Regions from separate parts of the Homo sapiens genome. Here region 1 is linked to region 2. Evidence: fine-mapped expression QTL. Tissue or cell type: whole blood. Region 2 holds a variant in brackets; the other region holds the start of a gene. All regions are shown on one strand. Distances are from middle to middle.

Region 1 (5,572 bases), 390 kb after region 2:
ACACATCATTACATTCAGCTAATTTTGTTTTCTGTAGAGATGGGGTCTTACTATATTGCCCAGGCTGGTGTCAAACTGCTGGCCTCCAGAGAGTCTCCCATCTTGGCCTTCCAAAGTGCTGGGATTATAGGCATGAGCCACTGGGCCTAGCTCCTTAAATGTATTTTAATACCAGATACAATCAAATATTTATCTAAAAGTATGCTCACTGCATTGTTATATACGATAGCATAACTAAACTAAAACATTAAAGATAGGGGAGAAAAAAATTATATTAACTGGATAGAATTAAAATAAGATGTTACAGAATGTTTAATGACTAGAAATACAATGATAATGTCCAATGAATAAAAATATTTTACAAAACAACATGAATTTTGAAAAAAAATGTGCTGGTAATGAATATATTAAAACTGGGCTGATGTAAATGAGAATGATATTAGATAAAATGTCATCTATTGGTGTTTGGATGAAGAGTGATGCTATTATATCTCTATATTTCATATATTTCTCTATATAACTATATTTATACATTTCTCTATATTTATATATTTCTCTATATAACTGTATTCTGTATTTCTCTATATAACTTCAACTTCTTGAAGTTATTGGTTACTTTATGATAAAGCATGGGTTTATTATTGTAGTATTAGTAGTATTATTAGGTCAGAAGGAACTTGGTAGGTTATCATATTTTATATGAAAAAACACAGTATGTTGTAAACCTTGCAATGAGTAAAAATACAATGAGAACTAAATCTTCCTTCAATGATAGGGCGCTCACTAGAGGTAAATATGTGTATTTTAAATACTCACAAAGATACATACATAAACAGGATTTTAATTAAAAAATTATATTCCCAAAGTTACTCAATAAATCCTACATACACATCAATTGTTTTTAAAAGGAGAATATTATAATTGTTATATATAAAATAACAGTAGAATTCATGATACCATTTGACTCAGTGGGGAAAGTGGCATGTGTTTTGGTGTTTACAAAGAACGGAGCACTTTGACACTTGTAGATAAAGAAAAGCTCCCTCAGGCCAAAGAAACTGTCAGCAAAAGCAAGGAGATGTAGCACAGTTAGGAAAACAGTGATTCGGCTAAATTTGCTGGGTTTCCTGGCTGGTTAAGACAAGAGAGCTATGGAAACATAACTTAGGGCCCTAGAAAGCTTTCACTGAGAGGCTCAGGAGTTTAGATAATATTTATTTGGTATTTAACCGAAGAACTACTGAAAATATGGAGAACACCTTTAGAAATATTACACTAGAGGCTGGGCTGCCTGTAACACCAGCACTTTGGGAGGCCACGGCGGATGGATCACAAGGTCAGGAGTTCAAGACCAGCCTGGCCAACACAGTGAAACCCCGTCTCTACTAAAAATACAAAAATTAGCCGGGTGTGGTGACGCATACCTGTAATCCCAGCTACCCGGGAGGCTGAGGCAGGAGAATTGCTTGCACCAGGACCCGGGAGACGGAGGTTGCAATGAGCCGAGATTGCGCCACTGCCCTCCAGCCTGAGCTACAGAACTAGACTCCGTCTCAAAAAAAAAAAAAAAAAAAAAAAAAAGTTACTACCAATCCTCTTTCTGGACTTTTTTTAAAAAGGCAAGAACATTCCAGAAAAGTTTAGCTAGAAATTACCTAGTACTAGTACCTACATCTCGCAAATGACAACGAAAATCAAGAAGAAATACCAAGAGAGATATTGGTAGAGAAGGAAGGGGAAAATATCCTAAACCTTAATTTAAAACAAACAAAATAAATAAATAAAAATTTTAAGAAAGTATTTGCAATGCACTACAGCGCGACTGACAGTCCTTTGGTTAAATCTGTCAGTAAAGACGACTTAGACCTCCTCTGTGCTGGCAGTTGTTCTACATGCTGGGATTCAAGTGTGTTCAGAAAACATCCAAGAACTTTTGAAGGGCACCAGTAGGAAGAAATCGACACACAATTTCACAGATGCCACTCTGGGGACCAAATACTCCCATTTTGTTTTTCTTCTTTCTCTTTGAAGCTTCCCGGGCTACACCCCAAATGAAGCACCTCTTCATTGAGGATGTTCGAATCCTAAGTCCCCAAATCCCTGCTGATGGAGAGCCACCCGCTCCTACTTCAGGAGGCACGTGCACCTGAGCTTTGGAGGGGTCGGAACCCGTACCCAGCTCGACACTCTTCTTAACAACGCCCAAACCCGAGGGTTGCTTTGCTGACAACACTCATTTAATGTAAACACTGTGCAAAAGCAAAGCATTGCACAAATGAGAATTATTATGGCAAGTTTACGATATAGACGTACAATTGTTACCAAGAATGAACTGGACCACACAGCCCTCCCGACCAGAGCCCAGCTGAGGGACCAGACTATCCGCATCGGGAGAAACCAGCCCAGCGCGAGTTCGACGACAGGAGAGTGCTTGGGGGAGGGGCGGACGGTGTAAAATAATGGGTGTGTGTCGCAAAGGGGGTTACCACAGCCAAGGCAAAGAGACCCACACTGAGTGAGCCGCGTGGGCGGGGGGGACGGCGCGCGGTGGGGGGAGCGGCCGTGGGAGCCGCTCAGGAGACGGGTGGCCTCGGCGGCTCCGCTCCGGACTGTCGCCCGCTTCCCGGTCACCGCAGCGCCCGCAGCCCCCGCCGGGGGGCGCCTCACCTGGTAGCTGCCGGCGGCCTCCTGCAGCGGCGCCGTGCGGTGCGTCCTGTGCTCGGGGCCGGCGTCGCACACCCAGCACAGCGCCGCCTCGTCCTCCTCGCAGAAGCGGCTCAGGTCCTCGCCGTGCCGCGCGCATCGCCGCGCCCCGGGCCCCGCGCCCAACCCCAGCCGCCGCACGCTCTCCACCAGGCCCGCCAGCTGCCGGTTGGGGCGAAAGCCCGAGGGCCGGAAGGGGCCCCGGCACTGCGGACAGGCGTAGACGCCGCCCTGCGCGCCGTCCGACTTCTCGCAGAACTCGGAGATGCACCTGAGGCAGAAGCTGTGGCCGCAGTCCACGCTGACCGGCTCCTGCAGGAAATCCAGGCACACCGGGCACCGCGCATCCTCGCGCAGCCGCTCCCCGGGCGGCGCCCAGGCCATGACCCGCCTCCCGGAGGGCTGCGCTCCCGGCCGCCCGCACCGTCTCCCCTCGCGGTCTGCACAGGGGGAGGAGCCCACGCCCCAGGAAAGCAGGCGCCGACGGGTGGTGTCCGCTGGCTTCAGTTCAAGAGCTCAGACGAGCCACACCCGGTGAAAAGCCACCACTCAGGCGCTCCCTATGTCGGGGATAAAATTAACGTTGTGGTTCCCCGCCCCCGTCACACACACACCCAGGAAACTGGGCATTTCTAACTGGAATCCCTCCTCATATGCTATTTTCACTGGCAGTAGATCTGGAGAATTGCTAAATTCCCTCCTTCCTTCCATCTTTGTTTGTTTGTTTTTGTTTTTGTTTTTTTGAGAGGGAGTCTCGCTCTGTCGCCCAGGCTGGAGTGCGGTGGCGCGATCTCGGCTCACTGCAGCCTCCGCCTCCCGGGTTCAAGCGATTCTCCTGCCTCAGCCTCGCAAGCAGCAGGGATTACAGGCGCCCGCCACCATGCCCGGCTAATTTTTGTATTTTTAGTAGAGACGGGGTTTCACCATTTTGGTCAGCCTGGTCTTGAACTCGTGACCTCAGGTGATCTGCCCGCCTCGACCTCCCAGAGTGCTGGGATTACAGGCGCGAGCCACCGCGCCCAGCCTCCATCATCATTATATAGATTTAGTGCAGATTTCTGGGGTACCAGTGCAGTTTTGTTACATGGAGACACTGCATAAAGTCTAGGCTTTAGCGCAGGCATCGCTGTGATAGCGTAAATTGTTCTCATTAGGTGATCTCTCATCCCTCGCCCGCCTTCCACCCTCCGAGCCCCTTCCATTGTTACTGAGCTACTCCATGGTCCTCTCATGCCATAATCGTTTCTTAAAAGGCTTTCCCCCTTTATATGGCATAATCAATTTTTAAATGTTTTTTTCAAACTTCATTTTTTTCTCTTGCACTAATTACCTCTTGATAAAGAAATGAGACACCGCCTGACACGGGAAGATGCCTGCATAGGTGTGTGTAACTATAGGTTTACAGCCCAGCCAAAAATAATTCTAAATATTTAAATAAATATCTGGCCTAGTTCAATGAGGATCCTACAAGGAATACACACATGTTGTAGGATTGTTGCAAAGCCAGTCTTGGAGATGACAAAGCTATAGAGATACTCATCAGAGGAATAATTCAAGCTTAGCCTCTCAGTGGTGTACCTGTCAGATGGGGGAGGCTGAGACAGGAGCAAAATGATTTGACAGAGTATGTTACTTCATCCAGTGGAAGGCTGAATCAGGATAAAGTACATTAAAGTCTCTAATGTCGTCCAGAAAGTCGACAAGTCTGAGGCAGTGTCTGCATCTGTGCAAAATAACTTTAGTATGGTCGAGTTTGAAGTGATGGTGGGGTGTACCTGTGGCAAATCAATCTGTCCCTGAGCACACATTGTGTCTGTTTGTAGCCAGGAGTCTCAGACATTGCACCGGGTACTGAAAATACACATGTTAAGGAAAAGAGGTGGGACCCCATTTCTCCAGGAGCCTTAAGATCAACTAGAAGAGGTGGATATGAAATCATGCAAACATATAATTACAAACCAATAACTGCAAGGAAGGTCGCTCACCAGTCCTGCAGGAATATAACAGAGGACTCTGAATGAGGCTGCAGGGTCGGGGGCAGACACCTGAGGTCTCTGAGCAAACCTCTGATAGGTGAACACAAGCTGGCCAGCGGGAAGGGGGGCTCCGCAAGGCCGTGCCCCCAGAAGCCATGAAAGGTACAAGGTAAACTTCAGCAGGTGGGAGCAAGACATACCCAGATGACAGTGAGAAGCCAGGCAGGCTGGCAAGCTGGGCCAGAATATGGTGGCAGCAGATAAGGCTGCAGCAAGAGGCGGGGCCAGATGACTCAGGTCCTTGGGGATCCTCTGGGGTTTGTGGGTCTTCATTATAAGGACAAACTCTTGGGCTGGATCTCTGGCGACAGGCAGAGCAGAGGATCTTGAGGCCTAAAGGTTAAGTGCGCAATTAAAGCGAATAGATTCTTGGAGAACACACATGGATCTGTATTAGCAAAACACGAAAGATGTGGCATTAGAGAAAAAAGCTAAAGAGCAGAAGGCTTAGCAAAGAAAAACAGACTCTGGCTCCGGACTAAGGGCTGTGGCACTTGCTGAGAAGCTTGAGGCAAGCTGTGCCGCGTTTCTGCCCTGCATTTCTTCTGACGTGCAGTGAAGAGGTGTTAGTGTCATTCATATAAGGCCTTTCAGAGTATTAAACGAGCTAATAGATAGTAGACACTTAATATAGGTCCTGGCATGTTGGAAATACACACACACACACACACACACACACACACACACGTATATATATTGAGACAGGGTCTTGCTCTGCTGCCCAGGCTATAGTGTAGTGCCACAACCTGACTCACTGTAGCCTCTACCTTTCAGGCTCAAGTGATCTTCTCACCTCAGCCTCCCAAGTACCTGCGACTACAGGTGCCCGCCAC
Region 2 (5,572 bases):
CTATATTTGTACAAAAAGGGGTGAGAGGTATTAAACCATTTTTTTCTGAGATCCTTTTCATCCCTAATTACTGCTGTAGTATATTACTGATAATATTTTACTTTCAATGATAGGTAGGCATGAGAGTGCTAAGGCATTGTAGATTAGTATAAATCATGAGCATACTGATGCAAAGACTCAGAAGCTCATCTTCACACATTGATTCTCATAGCCACTCACTTAGATGCCTCCCTGAAGGAAATACATACGGTGATCAATGCCAGGAAAAAAGGCCCTTTATTTTTATTTTGTGTTATTTTTTATTGATGCAAATATTTGTATACTTATGGGATACATGTGACATTCTGTTACATGCATAGAATGTATAATGATAATGTCAGGGGATTTGGGATGTCTGTCACCTCGAGTATTTATCATTTCTAGGGTTTGGGAATATTTCAAGTTCTCTCTTCTAGCTATTTTGAAATGTATAATGCATTGTTTTTAAGTATAGTCACTGTACTCTGTTACCGGGCATTAGAACATATTCCTTCTATTTAACTGTATGCTTGTATCCACTAATCAACTTCTCTTCATCTCCTTCTACACACACTCTTCCCAGTCTCTGGTATCTATCATTTTATCTTCTAACTCCATGAGATCATCTTTTTTAGTTCCCATATATGAGTGGGAATATGTGAGATTTGCAAAAGACCCTTTTAAAATCTCATTATTTTTGTCCGTTTTTCTTCACTCCTCAATTTAGTTGCTTATGGAGCTTTTTGAAATACCCTGTGTTCCCTCTATGTACTTTCTGCCTAAATTCACAGGCAAGCTCATGTCTTTATAGATGTGGCCACAGGAAGGCTCACACACTAAGAGGAAGGTAAAGGAAGGCCTCTCCATAAAAAAAAAATAAAATAAAACAAAACAAAGCAAAATTGTTTTGTTTGTTTTGAAACTTGTGTTTCAAAGACTAGTTGGATCACTCAGTTTACCATGTCACAATTCTATTTGTATTCATACTGAAATAGGCATCTAAGTGTTACAATTGCCTGTCATTATGGAAGCAAAGACTCTTTAAATATCCTTTAAGTAGTAGTTAAATTTTGGTTATCTAAAAAGTACATTTGAACCTTTCACCCAACATAAAATCTAAGAACTCAATAGCAATTTACATATAACATGTGGCCTCACCTTACTCCATTTCACTACTTCTACTGCCAAAATTTTGAGCATCCTAAACCCAATGTTCCACATCCTCTCATTCTCATGTTCATTTAGCTTTATGTAGATGTTAAACATCTTTTGTTTTGATTCTTTAATGATTCATAAAATTTTAGAAAAGCTATTGTGCAGCAAGTAATCTTCCTGAGCTTGCTTTATGGTATTATTAAGATTCATTCTATTTTTTTATTGCTCAAATATATTGCTTTCAGCTATTGTAAAATATTCCAATTTGTGAATACAAGAAAAATTATTTATCATATTATTTAGACACAGAAATTTTATATATCTACCATAGAAACAAACCTTTTGAACATGCCTTTGTGTGACTCCTAGTATACTGGAAGAAGTTTCTTGGGTTCTATGGAGAGAAATAGAATGGTTGGACTGTTTGGAATGTAAAAGTCCAATATAAAACATGGTGTTGATTTCTTTTCCAAAGTGCCAATATCGGTTTTCATTCTAGTCGGCAATGCTAAATTGTTTTGCTAATAAACATACTCAACAACATTCAGTATTGTTTGAGTTTTCTATTTTTTCTGCTGGAATGGGGATAAAATACCACTCTTGACAATTATGTCAGAAGTTTACTGGCCACGTGTGTCTGTTTTTCTGTGAAATAACTGCTCATATATTTTTCTTATTTTTCAGTATATATATATATATATATATATATATGAAGTTGAATCAAATAATATTATTAAATATAGGTGTATATTTATTTAGTATACTGTTTCATCTTAGTGCATAACTAGAATTTCCACCTATTTGAGGTATCTATCAATGGACAAAGTTTAAAATTTTTAACTTGGTCAAATTTGTCAATGATTGTATTTATAGTTATTACTTTATATGACTTGCTTAAGAAATTGATGTCTGCTCGGGAACATTTGCCTATAATTTAAAACAAATATTTGTTGTGTTTTCAATATGTGTTTTTAATACAGTTGAGGTTGATTTTTGTACATTGTTCAGTAGGAACTAAATTTAATATATCTCCCTATAAGTAATATTTTCTCAATAATTTTATTAAAATTAAGTAGATTTACATTTGTTCAAAAAGTGGTATTATTTGAGGCCGATTAATTGTAATAAAAATTAGTCACAATAATGTATAATGTCTTACATCCAAATGAAGCTTACTTCTTGTTTTTGTAGCAGTGTTGGAAGTGTGGACATGTACTGCTTGTTGGTGCAGCTTCAGGGACCTAGGAAGACAGAGTCCCTGCCTGGGTTTCCTCGGGACATCTCCATTGAACAGCCACAGTGAAAAATATAATGTGCAAGAAAGCATCTCGGGGAGTGTTTCTCTTTTTCCTCCGTTTCTTCCTCCCTTCCTCCCTCTGTCACTCCCTTTTTTTCTTTTGCTGAAATACCCATATTTCTTTTAAAAATTTTTAATTTTTGAAAAATAGAGCACCACATCAAAGAAAAAAAAATTAAGGAACTACCAAGGATCAAAAAAATCTTGTTTCATATTTATCCACCCAACAAATCTAAATGCATTTAATGTTTGTGGAGTTTTGTTTTGTTTTGAGATGGAGTCCTGCTCTGTTTCCCAGTGCAGTGGTACGATCTCAGCTCACTGCAACCTCTGCCTCCCGGGTTCAAGCGATTCTCCTGCCTCAGCGTCCTGAGTAGCTGATTATAGGTGTGTGCCACCATGTCTGGCTAATTTTTGTATTTTTAGTAGAGATGGGTTTCACCTTGTTGGTCCGGCTGGTCTTGAACTCCTGACATTGTGATCTGCCTGCCTTGGCCTCCCAAAGTGTTGGGATTACAGGCGTGAATCACCGTGCCTGGCCATTTGTTTAGACATCTTATCACTTCTTCATTATACCTAATCTTGAATTCATAGTTTCTTCCTTTGTACTTAACCACAATACCTTATCACACAAATACAATTAACAGTATTTCCACAATGTCATCTAATAGGACATCTGTAAGCACATTTCTTAATAATCTCAATAATCTCATGTCTTACAATTGACTTATTTGGATGAAGACACCCACACACAAAAAAAACGCCGCATGTTGCCAGTTGAGGTTTCTAATTACACATGAATTTCCAGCCGGCACTCTGAGCAGCAACCACATTCCTTCAATCTCCATAGAA[G/A]GTCACTCTGTCTATGTGTACACAGACTAGAAGTGCCAGAGAATAAAAATCGCCAGCAGAGAAGCCCCCGAACAACCCTGGTGAAAATCAAGTTCTGTCTCCTCTCTCACAGGCAAGAATGATTCTCAAGGGTGTGCATTTTATATACTTTCTCAGAAGTGAGCCACAGGATTAGGTTGGATTTGCCCTCTGTAGTAGCTTACTCAATAAAACACGCTTTATTAACTTCCTTTCCTTCTCTGTATTAATTCTTTATAAATATAGACTTTTCCAGATAAAGAAAAGCTGAGGGATTTCATCAACACCAGACCTGTCTTACAAGAAATGCTAGAGAGAGTTCTTCAACATGAGAGAAAAAAAGTATTAATGAGCATCTGAAGGTACAAATCTCTCTGGTAATGGTAAGTACACAGGAAAAGACAGACTATTACAATACTGTAATTGTGGTGTGTAAACTACTCATATCTTAAGTAGAAAGATGAAAAGATGAACCAATCAAAAATGATATCTACAACAACTTTGTAAGACATAGACAGTACAATAAGATATAAACTGAAACAACAAAAAGTTACAAAGTGAAGGTATGAAGTTAAAGTGTAGAGGGTTTTTTTTTAAGTTCCTTTTTGCTTGCTTCTTGTTTGATTGTGAAATCAGGGTTACGTTGGTCATGAATTTTAAATAATGGGAGATAAGATATTACTCCCAAGGCTCACAATAATTTGAAATGTAAAAATACACAACAAGCACAGGCAACTGAAGCAAAAATGGACAAATAAGATCACATCAATTTAAAAAGCTTCTGCATAGCATAGGAAACAATAAAGTGAAGAGAAAACCCACAGAATGAAAGAAAAAATTTTCAAACTACTCATCTGACAAGGGATTAATAACCAGAATATATAAGGAGCTCAAACAACTCTATAGGAAAAAATGTATTAATCCAATTTAAAAATGGGTGAGAGTTGAATAGACATTTCTCAAAAGAAGACATACAAATGGCAAACAGGTATATGAAAAGGTGCTCAACATGTTGATCATAAGAAATGTGTAAATTAAAACTACAGTGAGATATCATCTCACCCCAGGCAAAATGACTTTCATATAAAAGAAAGGCAATACCAAATTATGCCAGAATGTGGAGAAAAGGGAGCCCTCCTACACTGCTAGTGGGAATGTGAATTAGTACAACCACCATAAAGGACAGTTTGGAGGTTCCTCAAAAAACTAAAAACAGAGTTACCACATGATTCAGCAATTCTACTGCTAGGCATACATCCAAAAGAAAGGTAATCAGTATATTGAAGAGATATCTGCACTCCATGTTTATTGGAGCAGTATTCGCAATAACTAAGATTTGCAAGCAAACTGTGTCTATCAACAGATGAATGGATAAAGAAAATGTGGTACATATACACAATGAAGTACTATTCAGCCGTAAAAAATAATGAGATCCTGTCATTTGCAACAACATGGATGGAACTGGAGGTTATTATATTAAATGAAATAAGCCAGACACAGAGAGATAGACTTCAAATGTTCTCCCTTATTGGTGGGAGTTAAAAATTAAAACAACTGGGCTCATGGAGATAGAGAGTAGAAGGATGGTTATCACAGGCTGAGAAGGGTAGTGGGGGTGGGGATTAGGAAGAATAAGTGGGGATGTTTAATGGGTACAAAATATAATTAGAAAGCATGAATGCCTTAGTGTTTGATAGCACAACGGAGTGACTATAGCCAATGATAATTGTGCATTTAAAAATAACTAAAAGTATAACTGGATATTTTGTAACATAAAGGACAAATGCCTGGGATGATGGATACCTCAATTATCTGATATGATTATTATGCATTGCATGCATGTATCAAAATATCTCATGTACCCCATAAATATATACACCTACTATGTACTCACAGAAAGTAAAAATTAAAAATAAAAAGGTCTAAAATATTTAATGTGGATAGCATGACTTTACTCCAGAATTTTACTGATTTCATTTGAATTATCCCATGGAAACATACAATAAATGCCACACAATGTAATTTCCCAATAATAATAGCTCTAATACTATAGATTCTAACACTTGCATGGTCCAAGTTTCAGAGTTGCTTGCACTGCATCCTGGATTGCAGTGAATCCTCTTTCTGTTATTGGAGTTACTCAAAGTCAGTATCTTTTTGCGTAACCCACTATATAGATCTAAATAATAATCCAGGTGTGGTATATGCTGCCGTCAAAACCCAAAAAGGTAT

Evidence for each region. PIP is the estimated chance that this variant, and not a neighbour inherited with it, causes the effect.
Region 1: it holds the start of TRIM58, and the variant in region 2 is the best candidate, but not a certain one, in a credible set for the expression of TRIM58 in whole blood (TOPMed, PIP 0.50).

What each region holds. Positions count from the first base shown.
Region 1 is chr1:247,854,762-247,860,333 of GRCh38, reverse strand. It overlaps TRIM58 (tripartite motif containing 58), which reads right to left and starts at 3,147. Exons shown (of 6, transcript NM_015431.4): 1 at 2,668-3,147. The coding sequence starts at 3,087. RefSeq lists a cis regulatory region at 4,670-5,234.
Region 2 is chr1:248,245,462-248,251,033 of GRCh38, reverse strand. No RefSeq gene overlaps it. Among named protein-coding and RNA genes, the nearest start is that of OR2M4, 17 kb to the right of the region's middle. The variant G/A (reference allele first, on the strand shown) is at 3,323.